Regions from separate parts of the Homo sapiens genome. Here regions 1 and 2 are each reported to be linked to region 3. Evidence: microRNA targets listed by miRTarBase, many of them from high-throughput screens and not tested one by one. Region 3 holds a microRNA gene; each other region holds the end of a gene's coding sequence.
The links. Region 3 holds the annotated microRNA hsa-miR-513a-5p (UUCACAGGGAGGUGUCAU, at 1,799-1,816, opposite strand). A microRNA usually pairs through its seed, bases 2 to 8, with sites in the 3' UTR of a target mRNA and lowers its output. Matches are read on the target gene's strand: a 7mer-m8 pairs with bases 2 to 8, a 7mer-A1 pairs with bases 2 to 7 and ends in A, and an 8mer does both.

Region 1 (3,000 bases), not on the chromosome of region 3:
AGCGAGATCAGCTCCTCCTACAAAGGAAGTGTCCTTAATTCACCTTCTCCCAGGGCTTTCTCACTGGAGCTGTCTTATCAAGGTTTGTGTCTGATGAGGAAGCAGAGGAGTCCTAGGGTTGCAGAATCAGGGGCCACTAGAGCAGGGATGCTCCTAGCCCACTACCCAAGAAACAGGCAGCACCCGCTAGTGAGGGCTCTGGCACCAGTGCTTCCCAACCTCACGTCTTTTCTTTCTTGTGGGTCTCTTTGGAAATGCAGGTTCCAGATTGCTTCTTGGAAATTGCCAGCTTGACGTTACAGGAGTTCTTCAGGGCTGTCTCCGCAGGGAGAGACTCAGATCCTTCCTGGAAGAAACCCATTTATAAAATTATTTCGAAACTGGACAGTGACATCCCAGAGATATTCAAATCTTCCAGCTATCCCCAGTAGCTGTTTCGGGGTTAAGATCCCACAACGTGAGGAGTGACTGGCTAGGGTTTCCTGGGTTTGTCTTAAAGGGCAATTTAGCTGTAGTCATATAAAAAGGGCACAAGGAAATCTCCTCTATCAAAACAGGTACTATTACCATTTTGATCATTTATTTCCCTTTCCAGAATCATCAGAAATTTAACTATAAAATGTACTAACTATATTGGTGTATTGGTAGTATATTGTAAAAGGAACACAAGTTTCCAATCAGAAGACTTGAAGCTCAACTCCATTGTTTCCAGGTGTTGTGACCCTGGGAACTTCCTGGTATCTCTGTATCTGTAAAATGAGGTTGTTAAGGATTAAAGGACAGTATGTCCTATGCAATGTCATTCACACACAAATGTCAGTTTTTTGAGCCCCTCTTTCAGATAAGGTTATCTTATTTGGGGTTTTTACAAATTGCTGTTTTTAGTCACCTAATTATAAAGCGCCATCTATTTGCTAGATACTTTCACATACTTTAAGCTTTTCACCCTGAAAAGTAGTTATTATCATCATTTAAAAGATGACCAAACAGAAGCTTTAGAACTGCAAGGTAACTCGCCAAAGCCTATGAGGCTAGGACATCTGGGTTGATAGGGACAGTCAGGAGCCTGGAGGAACCAAGACTTTCTGATGCCCAACTGCATGCTGGACCCATCTCCTGCAGCTAACTCAGGATCTCAAGCAGGACCCCACCCCTAGTAAGCATCCAGCGCTGACAGGGCACCGTCACCTGACAACTCCTGCCCAGCACTTAGGAGCACTTCACCGCCCAAGATTTCTGCTGATCATTTCAGCAAACTCAAGACAAACTTTATGCAGGACTTGAGTGTTGCTGTTTATTCACATTTGTCTGCTGGAAGAGTTTATCAGCTGGATAATGCAAATAGTCTCCAGCTGACCATTGCAATTGGTGCCCCAACCTCATATATGCAGAAGAAGCTGAACTTCAGACTGTGAAAGGTAGAAAGGGCCTTAGGAGATCATCTGGCCCATGCTGCTTAAATTGGGAAGGAAGAACCGCAGTCCAGACAGGAGGCTTGCACAGGCTGTGCACAGCCTTGCAGATGATAAATGGCATAACTGGGACAAATGCAGCATCACACAGAAATGGAAATTCTCCCACTCCATAACAAAATTACAGTCCATGGCTGACCTTCCACTGATGAAGGAATTCATGAAATCAACATTTCCCCCTGCTGCTGGCCCAGCACAATTGTGACCCACTCTTGAGTATATAGGCAAGGCATGTACAAAGCTGAGTAACTGCATCTGTCTTCTAAGCTAGTCAGGATCAAGTCTTTGTAAGCACTGCCAAAGGTACGCCGGGTGGGGTGGGGTGGGGGTAATACACAGCTCGGGCTTTGTAGTCCTGATAAGGGGTGTCTGTGAGTTCATTAGCTTCTTTCCTGTCTATATAAAACAAGTTTCATATTCGGCTACTCAACTTCCATAATTTTTCTGGTGGGGTGTTGCTGGAGCAGATGAGATAAAATCCCTAAACTATTACTAGAACTATCAGCATAAAAAGTATGAAAGATGAATTTTCCTTTGAATTTTCTCTTCAAACAGCTGAAAGGAAAAACAAAACAGACTTAGCCCAAACCCATCTTTACAGGCTAAAGGTTAAGTGCCCTCCAGTACATCCAATTGCACTCAGAAGATCTTTGCCCTATTTTCACAAAAATGAAGGAATCTGCCAAACCTAAGTTTTAAACACAGGCAAGCATGGAGTGCTCTGAGCAAGGGCAATCAGTTTTCTGTGTCCGGACATAGTAGAAGAACCCTCTATCCAGAGTGACATTACATACCTAAGTTAGACATACAGGGGAAACAAGTTCACATGACTGTCCAATAGAGAGCAGCCCTTCTTCTGTCCCAAACCTGAAATTCATTAGTGTGTGTTTAAAGACTGAGCCAAGTCACCTCCAGGGCAGTGAACCTTGTCTCAGGGACCAATGAGATGAAATGTACAAGCTCAAATTGAAAACATTTGTGTACTGCAGTCTTTCCAGGAAGTGTTCTCTAACCACTGAGCTAAACACAGAAGAATGTATAAATATGTATGCTCTGCCAACAGAAGAATTCTATTTGATTATAATTTTCTGTTTCTATCAAGTGCGTATCCCTCTCTGTTGGAAACACATGGAGTGTAAGCTGAGTGGGTTATTATTTTAGCAATCATACTTTGCCAAAGATCTGGTCATTTTTTCCACTAAGGTATATGAGGGCACTATTCTTTTATTTTTTTGAGACAGGGTCTCACTCTCTCACTCAGGCTGGAGCACAGTGCCACGATCACAGTAGCCTTGATCTCCCAGGTTCAAGTGATACTCCCACCTCTGCCTCTCGAGTAGCTAGGACTACAGGCACATGTCACCATGCCCAGCTAAGTTTTTAAAATTTTTCTGTAGCAATGGGGTTCTCACTATGTTGCCCAGGCTGGTCTCGAACTGCTGGGCTCAAGCAATTCTCCCACCTCAGCCTCCCAAAGTGCTAGAATTATAGGCATGAGCCACTGTGCCCGGCCTTGGGTGCTACTCTC
Region 2 (3,000 bases), not on the chromosome of region 3:
TGGAAGTGGAAGAGTAAGCAGGGCCTGGGGCCGGGGCTGGGGCCATAGACCTCTGCAGGCTGGATTTTTAGAATTCAGGATCCCTGTCAGCAAATATTTAAGGCCAGAAGAGGGTTGAGACCATCTGCCTTATAGGGTTATTTAGCTTAATTTCTGTCTGTATCATTATAATCCTAACTTATGATATTTTAATCTTCTAACTTCATGGTCTATATTTCCTGAAACATTTTTGATAAATTCTTTTGTTTCTACAGAAACTCAAACAGAAGAATCAACAGCTGAAACAAATTATGGATCAATTACGAAATCTCATCTGGGATATAAATGCCATGTTGGCAATGAGGAACTAAGCTGATATTTAAATTTCCTGCTTTACACATGTTATACCATTGTTTTTTCCCTCAAGTATTTTTTCCCTGTGAAGAAGATTATTTATCTGCTTTTATTTTAGTCACTAAAACTAAAGTTTTTATTTTTACATTGTGATTTTTACATTAAAATATTAACTTTTTTTAATGCTATTTTATGAAAGATTATTGTAATAAACTTTGATGGGGTTTGTATTTTGGTTAATCTTCATGAATTGAATAATTGTTTTTTTAAAGCAAAATAAAGTTTTTTAAATAAATGTTAATATTTGATTAATGGATTTACTCATTCCAATTACCCTTTTAGAAGAAAAATATTTAAATATTTCTGCAGATAAAAGTATCAAATACAGTCAATCTGTATACAAATCAAAATTAAAGATATATTACCATATCAGCTCAAGTTTTTAAATTCAATGTTATTGCCAAGCCAATTAAAATGTATATTTCTATGAATAGATGAAAATTAACATATTCCTCCAGTGTTTGGTCTTAAATGATCTGTCTCTAAAAGGAGAGAAACTAATGATCTAAGGACAGCACAAATTGAAATCACAACTGTGTGCTTATCTGCTATGTGCTTTAAGCTAAGAAGCAATCACTTACCTAATTTTTTAGGTATACCCTAAAGTAATCATAAGTGTGTTTTGGAAACAGTACATTTGCAGGGATTTTAAATGAGATAGTTCTATATAACAGGTGATTTTTTTTTTTTTTTTTTTTTTTTTTGCCTATAGTCAATCCTGTTTAGGTCTCCCTGTGGGAGCTGATCTCTCAACTTACAAATAATATATATTCTCAAATAAGAGTTGGAGTCTTCTCAGAAAGGACTTTTCCAGCTTGATTCAGAAGGCTCTTCTATCTGGTCTCAGTTCTGACTCTATGAAAAATATTGTTTGGGCTTTTCTTCTAAATGTTTCTCTGGAAGGTAACACAAGAAACTGTAATAGGCATCCTCTGGGGAGGGGAAGTGGGTAGTTGAGGATCAGAATTAAGAAGGTGCTGACTTTTCATTGTATATCATTTTGTACCTTTTGAATTTTACAGCATGTACAAATACTGGCTATTCAGAAAACAGGAAACTATTTTTCATTTTAACTTATGCAGATTCCCACCTAGACAGAGTACAAGAAGACAAGACAAACCATGCAAGCATCTTTAGACCCTCCAACTTGACATTTGTCAAGGCAGTTCTGAGCAAGCCCAGTGTTAGATGGGGCGCTGACTGCCTACAGTGGGAAGCTCTTCAGAGTTAAAGGGCAGAATGAAAAGGTGTATGAAGCTGTGACAAGGAGAAGAAATAGGACTAATAGTCTAACCTACTGTGGTACTTCTTAGTATCTAAGTGTATTATAGTTTATTTGGACATGCAGGATTTTTTAGGTTTTCACTGTATATTCTTTGCACTATTATGAATTTAGTGCACTATCGTTGGGTACTCTTGTCAATTTATTTTTGTATTGATGTCTTCTAAGACACTTCTAAAATGTTCTGACCTAATGTTTTTGTTTTAATTATCACACTCAACTACGATTATTCAAGGTGCCATAAACTCAACTCTTGGAGGGAATGTGGAAATTGTATTATTTTGGCCTTAGTTCTATAAATAATATTTCTACTGTAGAACAATAATCAATGCAGCTACACTCTGCTACGGAGCTGTAGCAAGTTCTGAAAGGTTATATTCACAATTCAGAACTGACATGGGTTTACCCAGTTATTCACAAGTCTACTTGGGGCCAATTATGAACGTGGCAGGGTTTATTAAATACATGAACCTCACAAATTCTCAAAGTTTCAACTTTTTCTTGAAGGAGAGCATACTAATAGATTGAGGAGTAAAGAAAGGTGAATTAAGTTGTTGTAATGTGTTCCCTTGGGCAAGTAAATCTCTGTTTTCTGTAAAATGATGGGTGAGACTAGATAATCTCATATTCTATGTTAGAATTTTGGTCGCAAATATTAGAACCCAATTCTAAATGGCTTAAGCCAAAAGGGATTTCTTAGTTCCTGTAGTGAGAAAAGATGCTAGAGAAGAGCTCACAGAATAAAAGAAAATGGCAGGAAACAGGGCTTCAGGTATTGGAATCAAGTTTCAGTGCCCTCAGGATTCTGTGTCCACCCCTAATTTTAGTCTGTCTCTGTTTGCTCCATTCTCTCTCATTGCAGATCGGTTTTTTCCAAGTGGTGGGGAAAATGGCCTTCCACTGTCCTTTCACCTTGCTGTATCCTGAGCCCAGAGCTAGGTTGCTTCTCCAACTCTAAATTGAGAAATCCTAGAATGAATTCTAAAAAGTTTGGGTTATATAACCAACCCATGGACCAATGATAGTATAAATGGGTAGTATGATTAGACTAATCCAGGTTATAAGCTCATTCTTGTGGCCAGGAATCGGGTATGGGAGTTATGGAAGAGTGTACTGTGCAAGGAACAAATATTCGAAAAAGAGGGGGTCAACCAGGAAAATTTGCAAAAAAAAAAAAAAAATCCACAAACAACAGCAACCACAGTCCACTGTTGTTCTTTCTTGGTTATAATACTATCTCAGATATAATACTAGTTATCCAATCTTTCAGAAGCCCAAGAAAAGTTTACAGAAAATCAAATGCATCATTGACTGTCATGGGAATT
Region 3 (3,268 bases):
CCCAAAATCTCCTTAAGCTGATAAGCAACTTCGGCAAAGTCTCAGGATACAAAATCAATGTACAAAAATCACAAGCATTCTTATACAAAAAAGTATTTCACTGAAAGAAAAACCATAAATACCAGTGAATATAGTACTCTTTTTGAGAAATCCTAAAAGAGATAGTACTCTTTTTGAGAAATCCTAAAAGAGATATAACTAAATTCTCTGTCTTTGTTTCATTTTACGATATCACTTATTTAAGTACACATGAATTCTCTCTAATACAGTTTTAGAAATTATATGCTAAAAAGAGTTATCACTTTGGAAATTTCTACACACATACAGTATTTCCAACGGACAGAATTTTTTTTTATTATTCAGAATGTCCCCCCGCCTCCAATGAAAAAAGTTCTATATATTCTATTAGTACAATTGTTTTAATATTGAAAAAGATACTTCAACTGATTTTTTTTACTTCCAGACATTAATGGTCTTATACATATTCATCCATTCTGAACCTAAAAAAACAAACATAAACTAAAATCCTGCCTGTAACCATATAGTAATTGTTTTTTTATAGTTTCTCTCTTTCGGTGTATATGCTGTAACCTCTATTTCCGTTGGAATCAAAATTGTATTAATCAATCACTTACTATTTATAACATTTTTAAACACATTTCCCCAATATAAGTAGCTTATTTATATATAACCTACTTCTAAAAAATGCATACTAGTTTCATGCTGCAGATGGCCTCACACCATCTGGCACTTGTCTTACTCTTGTGCACGTGCGTATTTGCCTCTTTCTCTCTCCATTAGGTTGAGTTAAGAAGTGTCAACACAAGAAAATGGGGCCGGGCATGGTGGTTCACGCCTGTAATCCCAGCAATTTGGGAGGGTGAGGTGGGTGGATCACGAGGTCAGCAGTTCGACACCAGTCTGACCAACGTGGTGAAACCTGGTCTCTACTAAAAATACAAAAATTAGCCAGGTGTGTTGGCGCACGCCTGTAATCCCAGCTACTTGGGAGGCTGAGGCAGAAGAATCGCTTGAACCCGGGAGACAGAGGTTGCAGTGAGCTGAGATGGCGCCACTGCACTCCAGCCTGTGTGAAAGAGTAAGAAAGACTCCATCTCAAAAAAAAAAAAGACAGAAAATGGGGAGAGAAGACTAGGAGATATCTCTTGAGTAACAACTCTATCATACGCTTCCATTGTTCAAACATAAAAAACAGGGAAAAAAGATAATGGAAAAGGGTGAAATATTCTTGGGTGGACTACGCTTAACCCTCCATAAATTGGTGACTGAAGGCTTTGAAAGGTATTTTAAAAGTCTATGAGAAAATGTTTTAGTCTTTGACAGAAAATGGACACTGTGGATCAGCAATGAAGGGACCTGAGAGGCAGGAGAGTCTTTTGGGAGCGCTAAAGGAGAATCCTTGCAAATGATGACTTCTTGATAAGTGAGAAAAGTTTAGGAATCTGGAATATAGCCTTCCAGCTGACGAAGAATGGCTGTGGCCTCTATCCAATGTATTTCTTATTTGAGCCAAGCCTCATTTGGCAAAAATAGATAAATTCTTAAGGAACCGAAGTGCATGCGTTTTCTCAGGAGTCCACAGTTCCTATGTATAGTCATTTAGAAGGCACAAAAAGTTCCCTGAAGTAGCCCAGCACTGAAGAGTGGGTGCACAGGATGCAAAACAGGCATCACCATGCTCGCAGCTACACCCCCATCCTCAGGGACACCACATATGCAGTGCATGCTGTACATTACCCTTCTCAGAAAGGTGAAATTTATATTTTAGTTCACATAAATGACACCTCCCTGTGAAAGGCACTGCACACTGAATGGCTGAATGTGGCATCCAAGAACAAATGCTCCCTATTCATGCCGTTTTTTTTCAAGTCCCTATAGGTGTATGCCTTGGCATGGCCACCAAGATTTATGCCAAGGGACAATGCAACTTGTAGCCCCCGGCGCTCCCCTTTTCATCCTGCCCCAAGTGAGATTTTAACATGCAGATTTTTGTTTTGTTTTTGTTTTTGTTTTCAGATGAAGTCTGGCTCTGTCGCCCAGACTGGCATGCATTGGTGTGATCTCGGCTCACTGCAACCTCCCCCTTCTGTGTCTAAGCACTTCTCCTGCCTCAGCCTCCCAAGTAGCTGGGATTAAAGGCACATACCACCGCGAATGGCTAATTAACACACAAATTTTAGGCTTAGCCAGAATATAACATTTCACTTCATCTCTTCCCCAGAGATGTGTAATCCTTGTCTGGATTATCCCATTAGTTTTCGCGTTAATTTGCTTGTCTCATTAAAAATCCTCAATATCAGGCCAGGTGCAGTGGGTCACACATATAATCTCATCACTCTGGTAGGCTGAGGCTGGTGGATCATCAGAGGTCAGGATTTTGAGACCAGCCTGGACAACGTGGTGAAATTCCATCTCTACTACAAATACAAAAAATTAGCCGGGTGTGGTGGTGGGCAACTGTAACCGCAGCTGCTGAGGCAGGAGAATCACTTGAACCCGGGAGGTGGAGGTTGCAGTGAGCCGAGATCATGCCACTGAATCACTTGAACCCGGGAGGTGGAGGTTGCAGTGAGCCGAGATCATGCCACTGCACCCCAGCCTGGGCAACAGAGTTAGTTAGACTCTTTCTCAAAAAAAAAAAACAAAAAAAAACTATATATATATATATGTGTGTGTGTGTGTGTGTGTGTGTGTGTGTGTGTGTGTGTGTGTGATGTACACAAATAATCATGAGCTGAGGCAAATTAAAAGACCTGGATTCTTCTAGCTCTGGCCCTTGATAGCATGTAGAAGTCAGACCACATGATCGTCAAGACCGAGTGTTTCTATGTACCATTCTCATTCATCTACTAAACATAACCCCTGAAAGACAGACAGAGAAGCACATAGCTCAGTGTTAGTGCTGAGTCACGGTCAAGGAGCCATAGTTCACTGAACAGAATGATTCTAAATATCTCAAGCATTTTACTGCATTTTTTGAATTCCATGAAAAGCAACCAAAGTTAGATTCTACAGAAATATTTATATATATCAATCAATCAATCAATCAATTTAGCTTTTCTCTTAAGTATTTGGGCCCTTGAGCTATCTCCCCAAAAAGTTCTCAAGGGGAAAAAAATACACAGACACAATACTCCCTCCTTCAAACACCAGTACAGGTACTACTTCTCTTCCTCTGCATCACCCACCCCTCAGTAGCTTCAAAGGAGTCTTTCCAGCAACCTGGCACATCATAGCAGGAGATTCT

Region 1: the mRNA of PROX2 is a reported target of hsa-miR-513a-5p. Seed matches in the 3' UTR shown: 7mer-A1 at 1,410-1,416.
Region 2: miRTarBase lists MED30 as a target of hsa-miR-513a-5p. Seed matches in the 3' UTR shown: 8mer at 416-423.

Annotation. Positions count from the first base shown.
Region 1 is chr14:74,852,563-74,855,562 of GRCh38, reverse strand. PROX2 (prospero homeobox 2) reads left to right here. Exons shown (of 6, transcript NM_001243007.2): 6 at 261-2,530. The coding sequence ends at 431. Among named protein-coding and RNA genes, the nearest start is that of PROX2, 22 kb to the left of the region's middle. RefSeq lists an enhancer at 1-882.
Region 2 is chr8:117,539,629-117,542,628 of GRCh38, forward strand. MED30 (mediator complex subunit 30) reads left to right here. Exons shown (of 4, transcript NM_080651.4): 4 at 255-634. The coding sequence ends at 350. Among named protein-coding and RNA genes, the nearest start is that of MED30, 20 kb to the left of the region's middle.
Region 3 is chrX:147,224,102-147,227,369 of GRCh38, forward strand. It overlaps MIR513A2 (microRNA 513a-2), which reads right to left and starts at 1,851; the gene lies at 1,725-1,851. All of the region lies in intron 2 of LOC105373347 (periphilin-1), which reads left to right.